3 linked regions of the Homo sapiens genome follow. The protein of the gene in region 2 binds, or shares a complex with, the protein of the main gene of each other region. Each region holds a gene or a part of one and is shown on either strand. Other genes may lie near its edges.

Region 1 (8,183 bases), on a different chromosome or scaffold from region 2:
CTTCAAACTTGAAAGGATCTCTATCTAAAAAGCTACACTGGTGCTGTTAATTTTCCAACAGTTCTAGAGTCAGCAAAATATACCTACAGTAAGAGTTAGACACTACGAAAAAAGGATGAGGTAGGGCTGACAGAAAGCTAGAAACTATTATATACTCGTAACTTTGTTAAGACACCTTGGCAGAGAAATAATACTAAACCAGTACCTCCAGATTTCACCCCAACATATATTCATATTAGGAACAACTACTCTCTTAACAGCAAATGGATGCTTTATATTTACAAAATATATTTAAATGTGGTCAAATAAGAATAATTCTTAATAAAAAAAGACCCTAGTAAAAAAAAATCCTACGAAACAGGTCTCAGCAGTGCTTATTAATTGGCTTTCCAAGGTCTTTTCTTTAAAAAAAAAAAATGTAAAATTAGGCAGCAGCACCTGAACCAGTTCAAAAAACATTAATGCCCAAACCAATTTGCAGATTAATCTTACAATATTCATTTTGTAATCTCTTGTGCCTGCACAGTGCCTGGCCAAAAAAAAAAAAAAAAAAGAAAAAGAAAAGAAACAGGCTTTCAGTAATTTCATATTTATTGAATGTTTATATGCCATCTACGTTATAAAGAGGATACAAATTCCAAGATTCTATTTCCAAGATAACGAGAAGACAAGGAAAATCCCTGAGAAGCAATGCTGAAGAAAAACCATTACTTGAGGGCTTTTCACTCACTTGTGTGTGGAATGAGTCCGTTCTGTTTCCATAAATTAAACACCTCAGCATCGCAATGAAAACCAACATTACATTAGTTCCTAGCAAGACTTTTGTTTACAGGCTCAACAGAAAGAGCGAGAATTGAATGAAGCAGGAAAACAATTATCCCCACACCCGTAAAAGTGATTTCTCAGAAGCAAAACACCCTGAAAGGAAAAAAATGGGGATAACCAGAAGAAAGTAAGATAAGCATTGTCAATACTTATCTTAAGTGTATTCTTGGAAAAGTTAAAAATTATTTCATTGAAAATGAAAACCCACTTTGAAAAATACACAAAGAGTAAATATAAATACTTTAAATATTTAACAGACTCTTTTAAGTGAACATTCATGTGATGCTGGAAAGCATCAACAGGAAGAGGAAGTTCTGTTTCTGGAGTAGCTGTTATGGTATGATAATGGAATTTGGCCCTTTTAAAATCAACAAATGAGTCTTACAATTGGGTAAAACTCTTATTAGGAAATTAAGACTACTTTGTGCAGAAGCACTATTGTTGCACTTTTCATCAAAGAGCTTTGGCCCTCTAATTCAGTTACTTGATCTATTTTTTCACGGTGTAATAATTCGAAGACTGACTTAAAAATAAAGCAAGCTGACAAATTTGGGACTAGCATGCAGTGTCATAATTAAATTGAGAATGAAATGTGGTCAAGGAATCAATATGCTTTTTATCCCTTACCCTATAAACAAGAGTAACTTAGGATAAGCAAACTGCACTTCAACCACACATGGTCTAGCTCAATTCGCCACCCACCACCATGCAACACTGGTAGGTGCTATAAAGGACAGACACAGAACTCAACAAATTCAGCTGCGCGCTTACACTATGCTTACGGCTTATATCTCTTAAACGCCAAGTGTTTCTGGAAGACGAAATATTTAAATACAAGAATTAAAAGCAAACCCCATGATTTACCCTCATTTCTTCAGCTCCTGGACATTGCTTCCAGCAAGAACCTGTGATTTACTGGTAATGTCAACATTCTGGAAAGTTATTAGATAATAATTAAACACCGTGCAGGTCAACATCTGAAAGAGATCAAGTTCCCAGATCACCATGCAGTAGGCTCAACATTAAGTTCACAGGTAGAAATTCCTAAAATGTAATTGTCTTGAGAATCTACTGCAGGACACGGCTAAAGCTGATAAATAATACACCAATACCGAGCCGACTTCAGGCACCGACCTTCACCTAAAATGACCTTCTCCTCTGATTTCCAGACGAGTACACAATCCTAATGCACACTACAGGCGGAAAACCACAATCATGGTTTTGCCTCCCCCTTCTCTGAGAATCGGAAGGGAAGTTTCTCTCCGGAAAAATTACATTTCCAAAAGCCAATCAACTGGATAACTCGGCAGCAACCCCAGGCTAACTGCACAGCTCCGAAACAACCCTCTTTCCTCTGCCTGTCAACTTCGCTGGCCAAAGGCAATCTGCAATCACCGACTCCCCTGCTAGGTCGGGCCCGATTCCGGGAGGCCGAACGAAGGAGGAATTCATACCAACCTGTCGGTGATAGTAGACTGTGTGCCACTCATTGGGGCCCTTGGCGAGAGGTCCTCCTTTTATCCAACTTGCATTTTACAGTAACACCTCCTCCCCACCCCCAGTGCTCTGGGATCAGGCCCAACTCCGTCAGGGACACAAAAGTCCAACTCAAAACTCCATTCAGTCATCTAGACCATCCGACTGTAAGGGGTCAACGGATGCGGCTTGGAGCAAAACAAGTTATCTCCCAAAACGAACTGAGAAAGCCAGGGAGCGAGTCAGTCCAGAGTGAGTCGAGCTAGAGAGAAATCCTCCAGAAGGCACAAGGATAAACTTCCTCAGAGAGGGAAATCCGCGCGCAGTGGGAAGGGGACCCGGGACTCCCGCCGGGGCTGGGGCGGGATCAGCTCACGGACGGGTGTCGGCTCCTCCTCCGGAGTCTCGGGGCCTCGAACTCCCCGCCGCGGCAAGGGCCGGGGCCCTCCCTCCCGGCTCTCTATCTGGGGCTGCCGGCTGCTCGTGGCCGCAGCGTTGGCCGCGTCTCCGGCCGTCCCGCGCCGGGCTCGCGCGATTCCATGTCCCGGGCCCGGGGCTCCTTCTGTGCTCGCCGCCCTCACCAGGCTCCCGGTGCTGGGACGAGCCGCTGGCGCCGGCGGAGAGGTCCCGCGGCCCGAGGTGACAGGGACCCGGGTCTCTCAGCGCCGCGGACTGCTCCCCATCCCTTTGAGGCCCGGACTCTTCCGCAATCGCCAGAGGCGGCGGCTCCTCCCCGACGCTCCCCGCGAGGGGCGGGAGATGCCCGTCCGGCCCGGCCTGGAAGCCCTGGTCCGGGAGGCGGAGGCGGCGGCGTCTCCCGGCGCAGGGCCGGCTCGCCGGGTTCTGGAGGCCCTCGCGGGCGCGCGCGCAGACAGCGGAGGAGGCCGGCGGCCGTGGGGGCCGCGCAACCGCGGGCGCGCGCGCGGGTTCCGGTTCCGGTTCTGGTTTCCCGGCCCTGGCCGCGTCCGGCGCGAGCTCGCGCTTCCCGTCCCCCGCCGACTTTATGGCCCCCTCCCCTCTGACTTCGGGAAGCCGCCTCACCCGGGATCCCTCCGCCGCTCAGGGCCGCGCTCTCGCCCTTGAACGGACGCCTCCGCCGGAGCCCGGTTTGGGAGAGCGGCAAAGTAGTCCTACGGGGCAGAGGGAGGTGGGACCCGTGCAGCCCCGGGAGGCCCACCCACCTCCCGCGGCGCCTGGGCCCCTGAGTGCCGAGACATGCCCCTTCGAGTCCAGTTTGTACTAAGTCGACTTTCACCAGAGACCGCCCGAGAGCGCCCCCCAGATCCCGAGGACATCGTGCCGGGAGGCTCTTTGAAAATTACCAGCCCCCCTTGTCCTGGAAACTTTTATTACTTAAGGGAATGTATTATCTCTCCTGTCTTCTGGCTGCACGCGTTCTGCCGGTTCCCGGCCGGCGCCCCTCGCTGCCTCCGCAGGCCCCGCTCACCTGGGCACCTGCCGGCTCCGGGGGGAGAGCGCTGCATGAGCCGGAGGCGCAGGGCTGCGGGAGAGCAGCTGGGGACTGCAGCCAGGGTTTCTCGGTATAAATATTACTTTTAGGCTGTTTCTGCCTTGGCAAAATGAAATGTGTTATTTGCCAAATTGATAAAGCATGGTGCTTTCCATGGCGACTTAACAAGCGTGTTGTGGAAAGAACTGGGAGAAGAAAATGAAGTATATTTATCCAGTAAATAGCATTACGGTTCTCTCTGAAGGATTCCCAAACGGTTTTTCGGTTTTTTCCCCTACTGGGTAGAGAGCTTTAGATACCCATCTAGTTTTATGATTGAATAATTCAGTATTTTGGCAATTTAGGTACCACATGTAATACAGTTCTTCAGTTCTGCCTGCAAACATCCAAAGTGGCTATTCCCTTTATCCAACTATTTTCAGACTTTTGAGCTTAAACCTATGTTGGTGACAAGGGATTTCAGCCATTTTGTGGAATCCAAGTAGCAAATCAAATCTAATAAACAGTGGATGTGGAGAGAGGAAACAATTACCTCTTAACAATGCTGTTGCAAAAAGTCATTCCGCAACAGTTCATGAAAGGATCATTATCCCCGAATAGAGGCATGAGCTCACGCTGACGTTAGTTAGAACGGGGGGGAAAAAAAGGAAAAGATAAACAGAGACCAGAGACGACTCTTTATTGCTCGATTTTTTAGGTTCAAGGCACAGCCAACTAATTTTGTAATGTTTATTTTTGGAAAGAATAGAAGCAGATTAGCCAAGGCACTTCCCTAATGATGAGACCAGGACACATTGCCACCTGCTGGTGTATTCTAGCATGACAATTCTACCCTGAAGACTCTTAAATTGAGTGTTTACATGCAACCGGAAGGAATCCCATTCATATATATATATATATATATATATATATATATATATATACACACACACACACATATACACATATACACACATATATACATATATACACATATATATACATATATATACACATATATATACACACATATATACATATATATACTGACCAAAATGCAAACCTTATCCCCAAACTTAATAAATCTTTCTTAAAAGTACTAAATATCTTATTTTCCCCTATCCTAATAATGTTACAGTGTAAGTATAAAATTAATTGAACCCAATGACTCATCAAATCATGCATTTTGGAGTTCCTCTCTTCCCTTAATACTTGAGGGAAGCCTCAATACTTAAGCTTCAGGAATAAAACAAACTGGGAAAGTTTCCTAATTCACCTTCTCTTCCTTGCATACAAAACCTCTTGGCAAGCTGCTTTCAAGATCTTTCCAAACTTAAACAGACCCACGGTTCTAGCTGTGAGCAAAGAAGGCATTTTGCTGTGGGAAAGCTTCAGAAGATGGTAAGCAAAAGATTGAATTAAGCCAGTGGTTATTCATTCCAGAACTAATTTTTTTAAATGATGAAAATCTCTATAGTCACCTACAAAGCATTAATGATTTAAAAAAAAAAAAAACTGAAAGCCTCTTTAAAGCTGCCGATAGCTCAACTGTTCTAAAGGCTGTAACTATAGGATGCCTTCAGAAAGTCAAGCCAGTCTGGGTAGAACACACTCCTCAGGGTCCGTAGTACTTTACTTAGAAAAATGACATTGATGACCCAATCCACTGGGAAAACCTTTGAGGAGGTTTTCCAATGGGGATGATTCTAAACCACATTCTCATCCTCTTGTCCATTCTTTCAACATGCTTACTAAGTATCTACTATGCATCCCAGACTGTTTTAGGCATTGGTAGTACAGTCCTCAAGACAGGGCCTCCAGCTGTCTTCAGATGATGTCTCTGATGTCAACTCACTTGACATCAACATTTTCAAGACAAGTGTCCAAACAGGTGGCAGAACAAGAAACACATTAAGGTTCTTCCTCTCTCTTTTGGCAAACTGTTTTGTGTATGTCAACTGTTACCCCCCAAAATAAAAAAAAATAGGGGGAATGATGGATAATGAACAGCAGATTAGAGATATTCACTAGTAAGTATGAATACAGGTCAACATTTCTACAGGTCAAAAGGCTTTTTTTAACTTCTTGGCAAAACCACCACATAAATATAAAGACAGACTCTGGGTTTATAAAAAGTTGTTTTACTTTTATAAAATTTAGTACAAATCTTATGGAAATATAAATCGTTCTTGAACAGTGTTCGTTATCATTACACAGTAATCCAGTGCAAATGAGTACTTCATTTTGTCCAAGTATACCACACATTAATTAGCCCTTCATTTACCTGTGGTTTCAGAACTTAGCATTGTCTTAACTGCTGAGTCATCTTCAGTTCACATTGTTCTCTCAGAAGTTTTTTCATAGTTATTAGTAACAACATCAAGAAAAGCTGAAATGAGGGATTCCCTTCCCCTTACCAATTATTCAGATTTCTCACCATTCAAAAAAACCTACATACAGTTCCATGAAAGTGTCCCCAAAACAACAAGATCTGCAGTCCCTTCACTTCTGAGGAGTAAGAGAGAAAAAGAATTGGTACCAGATTAAGCCTGTTCATTTGTCTGGTATGGAACAGGTTGCACTGTGCCAAAATTCAAGAGCCAGCTTTTTTTCTTTTTTTTAAGCTCATGTGCCAGGCCACTCTTTTCTACAAGCTTTTGCTAAAATCAGCATTCCCCAGCATCCTACTTTGACCGCAATTTTGTTGGAAAGAAGCTTACCAGCATTTTAGGGGCGCTCATCATAGAAAAAAAAAAAGTGGAGATTAAGAAAAAAAACAGGAAGTGGAGATGCTGTCAGATTATCTCAATGCCCAGCAAAACTCTTTAACCAAATGACATTCATTTTTAAAGACCCACTGTTAACATGCATTTAAAGTTACTGTTTCCCTAACAGTGATGACTTTATACCATTCCAACCACTCCCTCATACCTGGTTTCTGTGGCCAAGACCATTTTTCATTTTCAAGACCGCTCATGGCTGGGCACGGTGGCTCACACCTGTAATCCCAGCACTTTGGGAGGCCGAGGCGGGTGGGTCATGAAGTCAGGAGTTCAAGACCAGCCTGGCCAACATGGTGAAACCCCGTCTCTACTAAAAATACAAAAAGTAGCCAGGCATGGTGGCACACGCCTGTAGTCCCAGCTACTCGGGAGGCTGAGGCAGGAGAATCACTTGAACACAGAAGGCGGAGGTTGCAGTGAGTTGAGATCACACCACTGCACTCCAGCCTGGGCGACAGAGCAAGACTCTGTCTCAAACAACAACAACAACAACAACAACAACAAAAGACACCATTCATTACGTTAGATTACCAGTGGCCATGGAATGGACTGATGCTTCCTACTGACCAGCCTTGACTCCAGTAGCACCATATGCTTGCTCACCCACTGAGCTAATCAAACACCATTGACTTCAATAACATGGTAAAAATAAATAATCAATAAATACATAAATACTTCATATTTCCATAAAAGCCCTACATTAAAGACCTCCATTAATAAAATGCCACATAATGTATTTATGAAATATACTACAGGGTATTTCATTCATTCACAATAGGTTTAAACTCAGGCAAAGAAGAAACAAGTAACCTATCCAAAGTGAGTGAGTAGCTCTCCAAAGTGGCAAGTGAGTAGCAAAATTAGTTAAAAGAACCCAGGAATTCTGGATTCTTAACCCCTTGTTCTAAGCTTATATTCTTGCTTCTCTTGGAGACTGTCACACTAAGAATTATTATTTTTTTCCTTCCAAGACTGGCCTTGTTTTATTAGTTTGTTCATAGAGTGGTACCTTTTTAGTAAAAATAAGAAAAGTAGGAGGAGTACTAAAAGGGAAAGTATCTAAAATGAAAAAAAAAAATTAACCTCATCCCCCTGAGGCCAGTACACACTTTAAAGTCTTTGGCTCTAGTTTGCAATATGTACAGCAGAGCTGAAATCTAAACTGCCATCTCAAGCACAGTGGAATCCACATGATAAATCCCTATGGAATTTAGTCATAGCCTCAAATGCCTAGGAGATTAATGCACAAAAGCCCTGAGAACTGGCATAGTTTTCCTGGTAGGGCAGAACCCATATAACAGGACTCAGTAAATCTACCCACACTTCATTCATCTCAGATCCAAAGCCCTAACTCTATAGGTTTTGTGCAGAAAAGAGTTAACATAGCAGGCCTAAACTGCTATCCTTGGAGAGGCCTGATTACAGGGTTGGCCACTGGCCGGCATTTGGGAACTTAGATTTTGGAGGGGCTCCCACAATTAACTGATAAGACTGGCTTACTGTGTCTGAACTGCTTGTGCAAACAATATGGCTTATGCTGAACACCTGCTTTCCTTTTGAGAGTCTTGAATTTTGCTATCTGCCAGGGAAAGCCTGCCTAGATGACCTGTCCTCAGTAAAAACTTTGGGCACTGAGTCTGTAGTGACCT
Region 2 (7,737 bases):
GATCACCAGAGGTCAGAAGTTTGAGAGAAGCCTGGCCAACACGGAGAAACCCGGTCTCTACTAAAAATACAAAAATCACCCAGGCGTGGGGGCGTATGCCTGTAGTCCAAGCTACTTGGGAGGCTGAGACAGGAGATTTGCTTGAACCTGGAAGGCGGAGGTTGCAGTGAGCCAAGATTGTGCCACTCAACTCCAGCCTGGGCAACAGAGCGAGACCCCGCCTCTAAATCAATCAATCAATCATAACTGCTGAAAATGATCTAAGTGAACCAACGGCATGGAATACGTGCTCTTTCTCTGTCCTGGGACATACTGCACAGAGGACTCAATCTTAGCTCAGCTCCTTGGGCCAGCATGACCTTAAACAAGTGGCTCAATATCTTGGAGCAACCCCAGTTATCATCATTAAGGTAGGGACAACCATAACAACACAATCACTCTAACACTAACTATCCAGGCAACCCGAGGCCACAAGCAGACCCTCAAAGGCTGTTTGTGGTAATGACGACAACATCCTTGACCCACCTGCTGCCCTGTCATGACAGGGAGGGCTGCAGCACAAGTTTATTAATAGATACCTCATCATCTTCAGCACAAACCTAAAGCAAGTTTTTTCAAGCCTGGTTTCACAGAATGTCAGGTTAGCATTCTTCAGTCTTTTTCTAAAGAATACTGACTTCTGGGCCAGGCGCAGTGGCTCACGCCTGTAATCCCAGCACTTTGGGAGGCCGAGGCAGGCGGATCACGAGGTCAGGAGATCAAGATCATCCTGGCTAACGTGGTGAAATCCCATCTCTACTAAAAAATACAAAAAATTAGCCGGGCGTGGTGGTGGCCACCTGTAGTCCCAGCTACTTGGGTGGCTGAGGCAGGAGAATGGCATCAACCCAGGAGGCAGAGCTTGCAGTGAGCTGAGATCAAGCTGCTGCAATCCAGCCTGGGAGACAGAGCAAGACTCCCTCTCAAAAAAAAAAAAAAAAAAAAAAAAGAATACTGACTTACTGACTTCTGAATTATGTGGCTGTGTTTAGGCTAATGAAATGATCACATTCAAGCTTCTATCAGCTAAGACACTTCAGAAAAAGGCTAAGACAGGGCAACCAAAAAAAAGAAAGTCTTTCCCCAAAAGAGATGGCTTTACATTTGGAACTCATCTAGTTTGCTCATCTTTTTTTTTGGGAGATGGAGTCTGCAGTACAGTGGCATGATCTTGGCTCACTGCAACTTCTGCTTCCCAGGCTCAAGTGATTCTCCTGCCTCAGCCCCTGGAATAGCTGGGATTACAAGTGCACGCCACCACACCCAGCTAATTTTTGTATTTTAGTAGAGACAAGGGGTTCACCATGTTGCCTAGGCTGGTCTCAAACTCCTGACCTCAGGTGATCTGCCAGCCTCGGCCTCCCAAAGTGCTAGGATTACAGGTGTCAGCCGCCGCACCAGCCTTAGTTTACTCATCTTTGTATCTGGAATTCATCTAGTTTACAAGGCAGTTAGATTTTTAAATAACATTTAATATTATTTAGTAATAATAATAATAATTATTATTTTTGAGATAGAGTCTTGCTCTGTTGCTCAGTCTGGAATGCAGTGCCATAATCTCGGCTCACTGCAATCTCCACCTACCAGGTTCAAACGATTCTCCTGCCTCAGCCTCCCAAGTACCTGGGACTACAGGCGTGCACCACCATGCCTGGCTAATTTTTTTGTACTTTTAGTAAAGACGGGGTTTCACCATGTTGGCCAGGCTGGTCTTGAACTCCTGACCCTCAGGTGATCCACCCGTCTGGACCTCCCAAAGCGCAGGGATTATAGGTGTCAGGCACCGTGCCCTGCCTAGGTGGATACATTTTAAATACAGTACCCATGGGAGACCTAGGCTGAAAGGGACCCAAGGCCCACGCTCTACAATCCCAAACTCCAGGACTCCGGCCACTGACGATGATTGCTTCTCTGAAGTTCATGTCTGCTTTTCAGCCACTTGATGCCCAGAAACCAGATGCCAACTAGCTACACAGGCAGTGACAAATATCAGGGTGCAGGGCCACTCACCTAAACTATCAGGGCTGTCGATGGAAAAACACATCAGTATAACATCGGTATCTGGGTAGGAGAGGGGCCTCAGGCGATCATAATCTTCCTGCCCAGCTGTGTCCCACAAAGCCAACTCTACCTGTAATGGGAAAAACAACCACAAGAGTGCAAGGTTAATCCCCCCACCCACTTTTAGAAAAAGTGACACTTACCATAGTACATTGAAATGGCAGACCATTGAAATGGCAGACGGTCTAAAACAGTAAAACACAGGAGTATTTACATTTTTTCTTTTTTCTTTTTTTTTTTTTTTTTTGAGATGTAGTCTTGCTCTGTCGCCCAGGCTAGAGTGCAGTGGCGCGATCTCTGCTCCCTGCAAGCTCCGTCTCCCGGGTTCACACCATTCTCCTGCCTTGGCCTCCCAAGTAGCTGGGACTACAGGTGCCCGCCATCACACCCGGCTAATTTTTTGTATTTTTAGTAGAGACGGGGTTTCACTGTGTTAGCCAGGATGGTCTGGATCTCCTGACCTCATGATCCGTCCGCCTCGGCCTCCCAAAGTGTTGGGATTGCAGGCGTGACCCACCGCGCCTGGCCTTTTTTTTTTTTTTTTTTTTTTTTTTTTTTTTTGTTGAGACGGAGTCTTACTCTGTTGCTCAGACTGGAGTTCAGTGGCAAGATCTTGGCTCACTGCAAGCTCTGCCCCCGGGTTCATGCCATTCTCCTGCCTCAGCCTCCTGAGCAGCTGGGACTACAGGCGCCCGCCACCACGCTTGGCTAATTTTTCGTACTTTTAGTAGAGACGGGGTTTCACCATGTTAGCCAGGATGGTCTTGATCTCCTGACCTCGTGATCCGCCTGCCTCGGCCTCCCAAAGTGCTGGGATTACAGGCATGAGCCACCACACCCGGCCGAGTATTCACTTTTATGAGCATCAAGCTCAAATGAGAGTATATTTAAATTATTTTAGGTTGAAATTTCTCAAAATTGAAAATCTGAGAACCCACCTCTACAAAAACACCTTAAAAATTAGCTGAGTGTGGCCAGGCGCGGTGGCTCATGCCTGTAATCCTAGCACTTTGGGAGGCTGAGGCGGGCTGACTGCCTGAGCTCAGGAGTTCGAGACCAGCCTGGGCAACATGGTGAAACCCCGTCCCTACTAAAATACGAAAGAAATTAGCCAGGCACGGCAGCGTGCGCCTGTAGTCCCAGCTACTGGAGAGGCTAAGGCAGGTGAATTGCTTGAACTCGAGAGGCAAAGGTTGCAGTGAGCCAAGATCGTGCCACTGCACTCCAGCACTCCAGCATGGGCGACAAAGCGAGCCTCCATCTCTAAAAAAAAAAAAAATAAATAAAATAAAACTTAGCTGAGTGTGGGCTGGGTGCGGTGGCTCACGCCTGTAATCCCAGCACTTTGGGAGGCCAAGGCGGGCGGATCACCTGAAGTCGGAAGTTCGAGACTAGCCTGACAAATGTGGAGAAACCCCATCTCTACTGAAAATACAAAATTAGCTGGGCGTGGTGAAGCATGCCTGTAATCCCAGCTACTCAGGAGGCTGAGGCAGGAGAATCGCTTGAACCCAGGAGGCGGAGGTTGCAATGAGTGGAGGTTGCAATGAGCTGAGATTGCACCACTGCACTCCAGCCTGGCCAACAAGAGCGAAACTCCATTTAAAAAAAAAAAAAAATTAGCTGACTGTGGTGGTGCACGCCTGTAGTCCCAGCTACTTGGGAGACTGAGGTGGGAGGACTGCTTGAGCCCGGGAGGCGGAGGTTGCAGTAAGCAGAGATTGTGCCACTGCACTGCAGCCTAGGCAGTGAGACCTTGACTCAATTAGGAAAAAAACAAAAAAACAAAACAGATACTAGAACTGAACCAAGTGGCATAATTCAAAATGTCAAGTCAAAAATAACTCTGTAGCTTATAAAAGTGTTTAATTATAAATAACATTCTACTAGGAAAGAAAGCAGACAGGAGGGAAGAAATCAAATTTTAAATAACATCCTACCAGGCATACAGGCGAGAGAGGAAGATACAAGACTAAGTAAATTTTCTGCTATAATGTGGAAACCATGGAAACAAATCTGTATTTTGAGTTGGTAGGTAGGAAAAGACACCATGCTGGCTGTTAGGCAAGGCCTGAGATGACAGGAAAGCCCTTTTGGCTGTGCCTTTACTACTCAAGAAATGTCTGAAATAATGCATCACGTAAGGTGAGAGAGTACTCCTTTCACATCCGGGTACATCCTCACCCTCCTGTGGTAGAAGGGTAAACTGATGCCTGGGCTCTGAATACAAGTCCCATTCAACACTGCCCAGCACTGCACCCAGCTCTGCTACCCCATTCTTATCACCAGACTCCATGTTAAACATCCTCTGTACAGAGGCCCTTTGAGGCCCAAGAGGTCTCCCTCCAATACTTGGAACACATCTTTCTTCTCTTAGCACCTTCACAGCCCAAATTTCAGTTTCTAAATGATTTCTTCCTTAAAATTGATGGCTCTTCCACCCCCGAACTTTTGCCCCAGGATGCATCACAAATAACCTCCACAAGGCCCACTGTACTTCTGTCATGCAAACCATCATTCTGGCATGTGTAACTAAGATATACTGATGCCCAATTATCACAATCTGTCTGCCCTCACAATAATGGAGCTCATTTACTCCCTGGCAAATCCCACTCTCCCGGCCCCCTCCACCCCACGGTGTTTAGTCATATATCCAGCCTCTATTGGCGCTTGATAAAATGCTTCCAAGATGTTGAGTCTGTCTCATATCAAAAGGGGCCTTTTCATTGTGAGCAGGCCTACTCTTGGTACCATGATCACCTACAATCTTGTATGGTTCCCTAGGCTGTACTATTGCCTACTGTTTTTTTTTTTTTTTGAGACAGAGTTTCGCCCTTGTCGCCCAGGCTTGAGTGCAGTGGCGCAGTCTCAGTTCACTGCAACCTCTGCCTCCCAGGTTCAAGTGATTCTCCTGCCTCAGCCTCCCAAGTAGCTGGGATTACAAGTGCCTGCCACCACGCCCAGCTAATTTTTTGTATTTTTAGTAGAGATTGGGTTTTGCCATGTTGGGCAGGCTGGTCTCAAACTCCTGACCTCTGGTGATCCTCCTGCCTCAGCCTCCCAAAGTGCTGGATTACAGGTGTGAGCTACGACGTCTGGCCTTATACTATTGCATACTGTTAAATGAATATTCCTACACAGTACCCTCTCCCATCTTGGGGACTCTTGAGTTGCTCTGAGGCAGGCAGGTAGCCTGTAATATGCTCTTCAATCAAACACTTTTATTCCAGGGGACTCTCCTCAAGTGAGAACCTCCCCCTATCTTGCGAGGGTCAGTGATGTCCAAGGTTTGCAGCACAAGAAAAATACTCACAGACCATGCCTCAAGGTTTTAAGTCAAGGTCTCTAAATTTCTTATGGGCAAGATTCTGGTTGTTCCAAGATGCCCAGGCAGAAATAATGTTTCCAAGAGAACCAAAGAGCTGCTTCCAAAACATACATACTGCCACAGATGGAAAAGACCCTTCCAGTTCATGCTTACAGACATGCAGCAATTAACAGCCACTCTCTGGAGAAAATGTTAGGATACAACCAGTAATATACATTCACTACTAGGCTTTTGAGAAATAAGCTATGAAAATGCCAACCTGACATTGCTTCCCCAAGCCAATGGATCTTTCTATGTATGGTGCATCAATCTAAGTTAGGTAAGAGGGCTATAACTTGACACCAATCCTGAAGATGTCATCACATTTCTACCTAGTTTGTCACAACTGGGCCCTGTGTCCATATAAAACCAGTTTTCCTATCAGGACCACAAAAACACCTATGTCCAAGCATCCATGCTTGGCTGAGGCTGAATTAACACCCTCTGTATTGGTTTGCCACCTTCAGGGTACATCCCAAAATTCTGTTAGGCTGGTATTTGTTGTATTTTTTCCATCTATACTTGGGCCAGAAAGTATCTTAGAGTTCCTATTAGCATAAGAGCAATCATCGTGGCTCACTCTGTATTTGAATAAAAAAGAGCACAAACTATAGGACGGGCGCAGTGGCTCACGCCTGTAATCCCAGCACTTTGGGAGGCAGGCAGATCACGAGGTCAGGAGATCCAGACCATCCTGGCTAACACGGTGAAACCCTGTCTCTACTAAAAATACAAAAAACTAGCCAGGCGTGGTGGCGGGCGCCTGTAGTCCCGGCTACTCCGGAGGATGAGGCAGGAGAATGGCGTGAACCCAGGAGGCAGAGGTTGCAGTTAGCAGAGATCACGCCACTGCACTCCAGCCTGGGCGACAGAGCGAGACTCTGTCTCAAAAAAAAAAAAAAAAAAAAGGACTACAAACTATGAAAGAGGGTTTTGAACATGGCAGTATTCATCTCTTAGAAAGCGCTTTGGTGCTGCCAAACATTTTCCGTTACTTCACAGAACCTTGATGTCACCTATAAAAACCGTTTTACAAATGAGGAAGGCTCAAAGGTCAGGAGCTTACTGATGGTCAAACAACTATCAGGAAGCCCTACAATGAGGGACCCTGGAGTTCTGAGCAGCTGATCTAACCCACATTCCTCACACAGTGCCACAAAAGGAGGCTAGGTGGCCCTAGGACAGAAAGAAATAAGTAATGTGGACAAGTAGAAGTGGCCAGGCACGGTGGCTCATGCATGTAATCCCAGCACTTTGGGAGGCCAAGGCGGGCGGATCACCTGACGTCAAAAGTTCGAGACCAGCCTGGCCAACATGGCGAAACCTCGTCTCTACTAAAAATACAAAGATTAGCTGGGCTTGGTGGCAGGCACCTGTAATCCCAGCTCCTCGGGAGGCTGAGATAGGAGAATTGCTTGAACTCAGGAGGCGGAGGTTGTTGTAAACCAAGATCATGCCATTGCACTCCAACCTGGGTGATAGAGGGAGACTCTGTCTCTAGACAAACAAACAAAAACAAAGTAAGAAAGGAGAAAGGGGATGAATGGAAGCTAATATATCAAGTGTTAGCAGCATATGAGACATATAACTGAATGCTCAAGAAAAATGAGAATGTTGGAGAAGAGCACCTCATTCTAGTTTTAGGGGTTTTTTCCTTTCAGCTGACCCACTTCAAAAGATGTATAGGAGAGCTGGGCACGCTGGCTTGCGCCTGTAAGCCCAGCCACTTGGGGCTGAGATGGAAGAACTTGAGCCCAGTTGTTTGAAACCAGCTGGACCAACACAAGACCTCATCTCTAAAAACATAAATTACCCAGGTGTGGTGGCACATACCTACAGTGCCAGCTATTTGGGAGGCTGAGGTGGAAGGATCACTTGAGCCCAAGAGTTCAAGGCTGCATGATCATGTCACAGCACTGCAGGCCTGGGAGACAAAGTACAATCCCTGTCTCTTTATTTAAGAGAAAAAAAAAAAAGTATGAGAGGCCAAGCAAAGCATTACTTAGACAACAAAAGGAAGCAGAAGATTAAAAAAAAAAACAAAAACAAACCAAAACCAAAATTAAAACCCAAAAAAACCCTCCAATTTCACAAGAGCTTTGTTCCAGTCTTGCCAGAGGGCTTTTAGGACAGAAATGGGGAAGCACTGTTCTCACCATCAATGACAATAAAATAAAACAACTGTGGCAGGCTATTTTATGTTAAAGTAAAAAAAAATCTTTTGGCCGGGCACAGTGGCTCATGCCTGTAATCCCAGCACTTTGGGAGGC
Region 3 (7,788 bases), on a different chromosome or scaffold from region 2:
TTTTTTTGTAGAGACAGGGTTTTGCCATGTTGCCCAGGCTGGTCTTGAACTCCTGGGCTCAAGCAATCCTCCCACTTCAGCCTCTCAAAGTGTTGGGGTTATGTGCATGAGCCACCACCCCCACCCTGGCCAGCCAAATGTCTTAATGTGGAGTGTGCAAAAGTCTACTCCGAAAATGCAACAGACCCTAAAAACTCTAAAGCCAGAAAAGTGTCACCTTCAACACGGAATCCAAAGATCAGAGAATCAAAGCAAAGAGCAGTGCTGGGCACATAGTAAGACTTCAACAAATATTAGTTGAATGAATGTAAATGAAGAACATGTTCATAGAAAGAGAGCCCCATAATAGAGATTGTCAAAATGGCAAAATAGTAGAGTGACACTGCCTTGGGCTTCCGAGAACTTCCAATACCATGATAATAACAAAAGAACTAAGGGTCACAGAGACTGGACAAAATGGCAGAGTATCATACAAATGGAGCAAAATGCTCTGTGATACAGGACCTGACCTACACTTCTTAAGCAAGAAAAATATCTCAAAGCCCAGCTTTGCCTAAGTAGAGATGTGGACTCAAGTCTGACAGGGTGGCATATTTACAGCACAACTTTAGCATGGCAGAATTCCCTGAATTTGGTGCACTTCAAATGTAACACTGTTTTTACATCCTCAGTAGGAGTTGCCCAGGTTGACCCACCTCTTCATAACAAATCTTATTTAAGGTTATGGGCGGGGGCCGGTGGGGGGATCCCAGAGCTACTCTGCTTCACTAAAAGCAACATAAATACAAATGCAATTACACAAAACCTACACAAACCAGATCTGTCATATCTGATTAGTAAATAAAAGCATAATAAAATTATAGTCAGCCTAGGTAATTTAGGCTCTGTTCAGTACCATCCTAGCCATGCCCAAGTGGTGAGGCTTTTCCAACATTTATATCATGAATCTTTTTTTCTTGGAATTCAGTCCTTGGTCATAAACTGGCAGGACTTGTTGGAGCTTGGGTACCAATATAGTGGTGTACAGAATGTTTAATATAGAAGTAATAGTATATGCTGCAATTTGTTTTAATACCTACTTAGAACACATAGTCTTTTCTCACGGGGCATACTAAAGGAGGTCATGTATCAGAGCTCACCTGAAATTCCTGCCCAATTTAAGTCTTAGCCACAAGTGTAGTTTCTTATAAGAACACAATAAGAAAACATTCCAAACTCTTCTGCAGTACTCACATAATTAAAAAAAAAAAGTATGAAACCCACCCAAGTGAGGCTTCTGAGACATTTCATAGAAACTTAGTTATTAACTACTATTTTTCTTCTTTACCTTTAAGTGTTTATAAACTGCTTAAAGGACAGTTGGGTACTTCAGAGGAAAGTCTAATGACACGCCTGCTATACAACCTGTTCTTAGTTGGCCAGATTGTGTGGTTTTGATAAGGAAAAAAAAAAAGTCAAAAGCAGGACAAACACTGATTCTCTGTTCTCCATTCTCCCATTACCCAAGACATTCATCTGAGTCACACACTCTATAGCTAGCTCTGAGCCTCAGTTTCCCTAACCATTAGCTATAAGATCTGATGCTAGCCAAATTCCTATTTGATCAAAGTTAATCAGCCCAATAATCACATATAGAGTCCACATCAGAACATTACATTGAAATACTATGTTGTATTAAAAATTCCAAAGGGTTTTGCCATATTCATCTCTTTTCTGCAAATACTCCAAAGGGGTTACTTTGGCTATTAATCAAGATTAGGCAAATACCCATGTGCTTTAGGAATGTGTAACTAAAAACCCAGGACAGATCTAGAGAAACCTTCCCAGGTTTCCCAGAAGTCATCACTACGCTTGGATTGTCATGTACAAAGTAGATGCCACAGAACCTAACAAGGGTAGGTCCTTGATTTGTTTTTGCAGTGAAAACAGGATTTCACTTACACCTGACAGCTTCAGGGCCTAGGAACACAAGATAACAACGCTTCAGAAAGCCAGGGGCCCCATGGAACCCCAAATGATCAGTTCTTTATAAACGAAAATTAAAGATCTTACTTTCTTTGGATTTTGCCCAATTGGTGTGGTCCGTGGTGAACCTCTATAACTCCTGGTGTGAGGAGATGTGTGGATACCCAGGCAGGGGTCAAGGCGGGAGAAGCCGCACAAACACAGATGTTGCCACTGTTCCTCGGCCCACCCAGCCAACCAATGCGGGGACGCTGTGGGCCTATAGAGATGGATTCTTTCTTAGAAATCTAACTGGTCTCTGGGAAACCAAAGCTGGGTATCCAGGGCCGCCTGAGCACCCAGTTTCCATACAGCCCTCGACCCAAATGGTGCTTTCTTGGCCAAACACCGGCCTGTCATTCGGAAAACCTAAGCACGGGAAGGCTGGGGCACCACCACATACACCCCGGGTATTTAAGGGGAAACAAATCCATAAAATAAGCGTAAGGAGTCCCACATAATTCTGACCACCTTTCCCAACCAAGGTAACCATAAATGCCTTTTGAAACACAGCAGATGCTTCCACACGAGTAAGTGGTAGTGCGTGTGTCCTGAGCTTGCGTTCCGTCTGCATTCTGCGGTCCTGGCCCTGCCAAGCACCCTCAGTCCCGGAGCTGAAGCATGGATGGGAAGGGCGGACACCAACTCTCGACGTTCTCCCTTCTCCACCGCAGGAGTGCTGTTTATTTCCCTGTCTCCCGAAGGACACTGGCGGGGCTTTCACCCGCCCAGCCCCCGGCTCTCAGTGCGCCCGAGCGACCCCGCGCTCCGCAGCTGCCGCCGCCGCACGAGGCTGCGCCGCCCTCTCCACTTGTTGCCGCTCCCGAGGGAGCGGGAGGCGGCGCCCAGCCCTCGCGCCGCAGCGCCTGCAGCGGTTCCCCGGTCACCTCTGCTGACCCTCGCATCCCTGGGGACCCTGGAGAAAGTGGCCCTGCGGATGCGAACTCAGGTGGACAAACTTTTCCGCCCAGAGCTGCAGGGAAACGCAGACGATGGAGTCCCAAAGAGCATTTACCTGGAGCGATGGCCCCGCAGCCTCCAGAACCCAGGCGAGGCTCTGCCCCCGCGCCCTGCCTGAGGGCGCCTCGGAACGCGCCCCCAGCCAGCCGCCGCCCGGAGTCCGGAAGGCTCTCCCCGGCGATGCCAACGCCTGGCGGCGGCCGGGCTGAAGCCAAGGTTTAGGGGGTGGAGCCGCGGCCGCGCGCCCGGGCCCGGCTGGCTGCGCCAGCAGCGGGTGCCGCCCCCGCTCCCCCCGCTCCCCCCGCGCCTCCCCGCTGCCACTGGATCCCCGCCTGCCCACCTCCCGGCCCGGCTCGCGGCGGCCGCATCACATGGCGAGGCCCGCCCGCCGGCCGCGCCCGACACCGGCTCCAGGAGGAAACCTGAAGCTGCCCCTACCGCGCTGTCTCCGCCAGCCCCCTCCCGCTGCGGGGCTGCGGCCGTTGGCCTCCGGAGATCGGAGGCGCGGAGGCTGGCGCGGACCTGGCGGGCCACAGGAGTGCCAGTTGCGCCCCGGGCGCCCCCACGCCTTGGCGCCTCCCGAGGGAGGCGCTGGGCTGCCCGCTCGCGAAAGGAGTTGTGCCAGGCCCGAGGGAGGCTCAGGCTGTTCCCAGCCAAAAGCCACCACACCCGTGACATAATACGGCCCGGGTCTATTACAATAGGAAATATTATTTTTAAAAACAGCATTTGCCCTCTTATTTGAAGCTCATGTTCCCTGGCCGAGAGCTTTGCAAGCTGCGATTCCCTTCACGTTTATGCACGCAAGTGGCTGCAAGTCTTAATTCAAAAACGTATGAAAACCATAACCACTTTTACAATGAACAGCAATGTGAAGGGACTTCCTTATCCTCCAAAGCAGTTTTCCTCTTAGATGTGATGACAGCCCCAAGAGCAGAAGCCAAGCCTCTTCATCAGCCAGGCTCTCATATACAGACTTAAGACCATTATTGCAGCTTTAAAGGTAAAATTGCCCATCTGAGACTGCTGTGGCAGTAAGTGTTATAGTTAAGACTATTTGTAAGGAAATTAGTATTGAAATATAAAGTTTCTAATAAAATTTATAAAATCACCTTGAGTCTCTGCTTTGTTTTTCCTTTGAAGACTGGCTACGCACAGAACCATAACAAAGGTGTGGCCCGAGGAAGCTGGCCACCAAGATCCCAAGCCAGAATGGAGCCCAGCTCCCAGGCTGCCACCACCACTTCTCCTGGGCCTGGGCCTTTTCTGTCTCCCTTCCAGCCGCCACCTTCCCCAGCCCACCTTGCTGATACGAATGCTGAGAAAGGCTGAGATTAGCAAGAGAAAGACCATCGTGTGTCTGAATGCCTTAGCCCTGTTCCAAGGCAAAGGCTGCAATTCCGCCTTGGGAAAGGGACCCCAACACTGGCATTGCACTCCTGACCTGGGCTGTCATCCCAGCTGATTCCACCCTCAGCCCCACAGAGCTGTGAACTCAAGGCCTGGCCTCAGGCGCTGCCACAAAAAAAAAAAAAGAAAAAAAAAATATATATATATATCCTGCCCAGTGTCAAGGTACACAAGATAAAAATAAAAGCAATAATATTCTTTTCAAAAATAGAAAAAATTTTGAGCAGGGCGTGGTGGCTCACACCTGTAATCCCAGCACTTTGGGAGGCTGAGGCGGGTGGATCACCTGAGGTCAGGAGCTCGAGACCAGCCTGGACAACATGGTGAAACCCCGTCTCCACAAAAACACACAATTTAGCTGGGTGTGTTGGTGCGTGCCTGTAATCCCAGCTACTCGAGAGGCTGAGGCAGGAGAATCACTTGAACTGAAGATTAACTGAATCAACATGCCAGACAAAAATGGTTTCCAAACTCTGGTGAATAAACATGGTGATGTGTTAGAAGCCTTTGTTGTTATTGTCCTTTTTCATATCACTAGTACTGAAGCCCTCTTTTTCTTTTTTTTTTTTTTTTAATTCTGGCAGGTATGTATCTTTTTTTAAAAAACAAAAAAATGTGGAAAGAGGAACAAATATTATAAGAAGTTACCCCCAAGCCCCTTCCCCACTAAAAAGAAACCAGCAAAACTAGTAATTGTGAAACTCTCACCACCCAAGGACATACAATGCTAGCTGCAGTTTTCTTGCCTGCTCTCAAGCCCTGAGCTTGATCAATATTTAAATACGTACTTGGCTTTCAACTTCTCTAGGTTCAAATATTAAGCAAAGTGTTTGCTTCAGCAACCTTAAAAGAAGCCGTGACTATCTGAGGCAGGAAGCTATCAGTTGTGTAAATAACCCTTTGCACCTGATTGATTTCACTGCTCCAGATATAGGTCACTCAGGACATTGCTGGCACTAAGCTTGGCTGGGACAGCATTTGTTTTGAATTCAAAGACTATATATTCTCTACAGACAAGGGACATTCAGCCAGCAAGAAACCAGGCTGGCCATTCAGTTAGGGAAATTCTAACTGCCTAGTGAGTATTATGCCAATGTCCTAGCTCAGCTCTGTCTTTTCTAGAGATTCAATCCCCATTCATCCTTACATACTTCACTCCAGATAGACCTCCTCCATAAATCCTTACATTGTCCTGGTTTCTGCTACCCTCTGAATTTTGGCAAAGCATAATGGCCTTACTACACAGTGTAGCACCTGATTATATTAACTGTCACATGTTGGACAACTGTAGGCTCTTATCCTCCCTTCAACTTGAAATTCAAGGACAAAACCTGTTCCTTACCCCTGTAATCTTCACAGTCCCAACACAGGGCATTTCTGGAGTATTTAGTATTTGTTTTTTAATTGAACTATCACATCCATTATGCAAGAAGAAAAATGTCACCATTTTCAAACTTTAATGAATTATAACCACTGCTAATTATATTATCTATTTAATTATTTCCTGGCCTTCATTATATTTCCTTTGTCAATAATTCTCAAAAATTGGATAATTGTAAATCTGATGTTTAGCCACGTGAGTTAGGGAATTACTAGTGTTTCTTAAGTGAAAGCAAGATACTAGAAAATGGTAGATTTAATAGGAGGTGAACAAACTCTGGAATACAAATAGGATGATCTTGGGAAGATACAACCTTTCTAAGCCTCCATTTCCTCATCTGTATAATGGGCATAAGAACAGCATATACTATCATTGTGAGGATTACGTGACTGAAAGTGATTACAGGACACATAATAAGGATGTGGAAAATAGTGGCAGTTAATCTTTTAGTGTATGGTTGTATTAGGAGAACACTTCAGAGCTTTGAGATAATTAATAGGGCATGGCAGACCCCAAGACAAGAAACTATTTCTGGATTATAAACTTGGTTGTCCAGCCTAGGAAGGTCGGAGAACACAGAGAAAAGAGGCCAACATTATTAAAACCAGGGGACAGATCTCATGGGGAAATCCACACAGTAGTTCTCATTCTGGCTACACATTAGCATCACCTGGGAAGCTTTAAAACAATCTTGATTCCCAGAACGCCCACCTGATCAATCATTCGGAATCTCCAGAAAATTGGGCCCATGTTATTGGTCGTTTTTTGAAAGCTCTCCAGGTGATTCCAATGTTCAACCAAAGTTGGGAACCACTGGACTAAAGGAACTGAATGTATTGACACTGGAGGAGGGTGAGGATCGCACTCAATTATATGTGGTTAAGGGGAATCAGCTCTTCCATTTCCAATGTTAAACCATCAGGTTTAAATTGCAGGTGAGCAGGGCTTCCGTGTAATCTGCATATGAGTCACTTGGGGATCTTGTTAAAATGCAAATTCTGACTTAGTAGCAGATGGAGTCTGATATTCTTCATTTCTGATAAGTTTGAGTTGGGGCTGAGGCTACTGGTCTGTGGACCATACTCTGAGGAGCGAAATAATAGATTTAGAGAGAAATATTCAGATTTGTTACAGGAGAAGTCTTAACATCTCTGAATATTTTTAATCAACTGATATTTATTGAGCACCAACTATGCAAAAAATTAATATTTTGCAATCTTTGAAGAAAATAATAGGTTGTTTTTAGCCAGTTTTCAGTATGAGGTCTTCCCTAAAGGGGCAACTTACCTGTCAGGTATAGCAAGCTCAGTGCCTAGGGTCTATAATACTTATAGGGGCCAAAAAATATTTTAATTTCTTTTAAAATCAGAAGAGAAAAATGAACTTTTAGGTCAAAGAAAATGTTTTAGCATATAATATTAATATATTTGTATCTATAACAATGCAATAGTGAAATATAATTTTTCTTTTTATCTACATTTTTATTTTTCTGGAGGAAGGTGCGTATGAAGGCAAAAGTGCCCAGATCCTACAAAAGTCATAATGCAGCTATGTTCTTGAAGTCCATATTAGTCTCAGGTATTTTTAGGAAAGCACATGGAACTCATTGTGGCTGATATTTTCATGTTGGTATTTACATGAGCAAAAGGAAGATATTGGGGAAATTATAAATACGCCTTTTGAGTGGAGCCAGCCCAATAATTATGAAGAGTTCAACACTTTCCACGTGTGCAATTTGGAAACACTGGGGATGCTCCATTGACAAAACATTGTTTCTTTTCAGCTGATTCCTTAGGGTCTAAAATTCTATCACTAGAGATTTACTCCACCTCCAGAGCCAGTCTCTAGAGATTCACATTATTGAGACCCTTCCTTTGCATATTGACCTTTTTTTTTTTTTTTTGAGACAGGGTCTCACTCTGTCACTCAGGCTGGAATAAAGTGGTGCAGCTGCACCTCACTGCAGCCTCAATTCCCAGGCCCAAATAATCCTCCCACCTCAGCCTCCCAAGTAGCTGGGACCACAGGCATGT

The links.
Region 1: the proteins of RHOA (region 2) and ARHGEF12 are in contact, whole or in part, in a crystal structure (PDB 1X86), measured with the Homo sapiens proteins. Residues at the interface, in NP_001300870.1 of Homo sapiens: Arg5, Lys7, Thr19, Lys27, Val33, Tyr34, Pro36, Thr37, Val38, Phe39, Glu40, Asn41, Val43, Asp45, Glu54, Trp58, Asp59, Ala61, Gly62, Gln63, Tyr66, Asp67, Arg68, Leu69, Leu72, Ser73, Asp76, Glu97; in NP_056128.1 of Homo sapiens: Pro766, Asn768, Gln770, Glu790, Val791, Glu794, Thr798, Ala801, Cys888, Gln891, Pro892, Lys899, Arg922, Arg923, Leu924, Gln925, Lys927, Asp928, Pro931, Thr932, Met934, Gln935, Thr938, Lys939, Leu942, Leu943, Asn946, Arg968, Leu971, Asn972.
Region 3: the proteins of RHOA (region 2) and ARHGEF28 are in contact, whole or in part, in a crystal structure (PDB 6BC0), measured with the Homo sapiens proteins. Residues at the interface, in NP_001300870.1 of Homo sapiens: Arg5, Val38, Phe39, Glu40, Asn41, Tyr42, Val43, Glu54, Ala56, Trp58, Arg68, Leu69, Leu72; in NP_001171164.1 of Homo sapiens: Lys1140, Ile1142, Arg1144, Glu1145, Val1146, Ala1147, Asn1148, Glu1149, Phe1154, Ile1156, Ala1158, Ser1159, Ser1160, Pro1163, Glu1164, Met1165.

What each region holds. Positions count from the first base shown.
Region 1 is NC_000011.10:120,331,376-120,339,558, reverse strand, and holds the start of ARHGEF12 (rho guanine nucleotide exchange factor 12), read right to left. Parts: upstream 3,147-8,183; 5' UTR 2,316-3,146; coding exon 2,284-2,315; exon of another isoform or gene 1,690-2,283; intron 1-1,689. UniProt on the Homo sapiens protein: May play a role in the regulation of RhoA GTPase by guanine nucleotide-binding alpha-12 (GNA12) and alpha-13 (GNA13). Acts as guanine nucleotide exchange factor (GEF) for RhoA GTPase and may act as GTPase-activating protein (GAP) for GNA12 and GNA13.
Region 2 is NC_000003.12:49,366,379-49,374,115, forward strand, and holds part of RHOA (transforming protein RhoA isoform 1 precursor), read right to left. Parts: intron 2,171-7,737; coding exon 2,050-2,170; intron 1-2,049. UniProt on the Homo sapiens protein: Small GTPase which cycles between an active GTP-bound and an inactive GDP-bound state.
Region 3 is NC_000005.10:73,621,554-73,629,341, reverse strand, and holds the start of ARHGEF28 (rho guanine nucleotide exchange factor 28), read right to left. Parts: upstream 3,147-7,788; 5' UTR 3,020-3,146; intron 1-3,019. UniProt on the Homo sapiens protein: Functions as a RHOA-specific guanine nucleotide exchange factor regulating signaling pathways downstream of integrins and growth factor receptors. Functions in axonal branching, synapse formation and dendritic morphogenesis.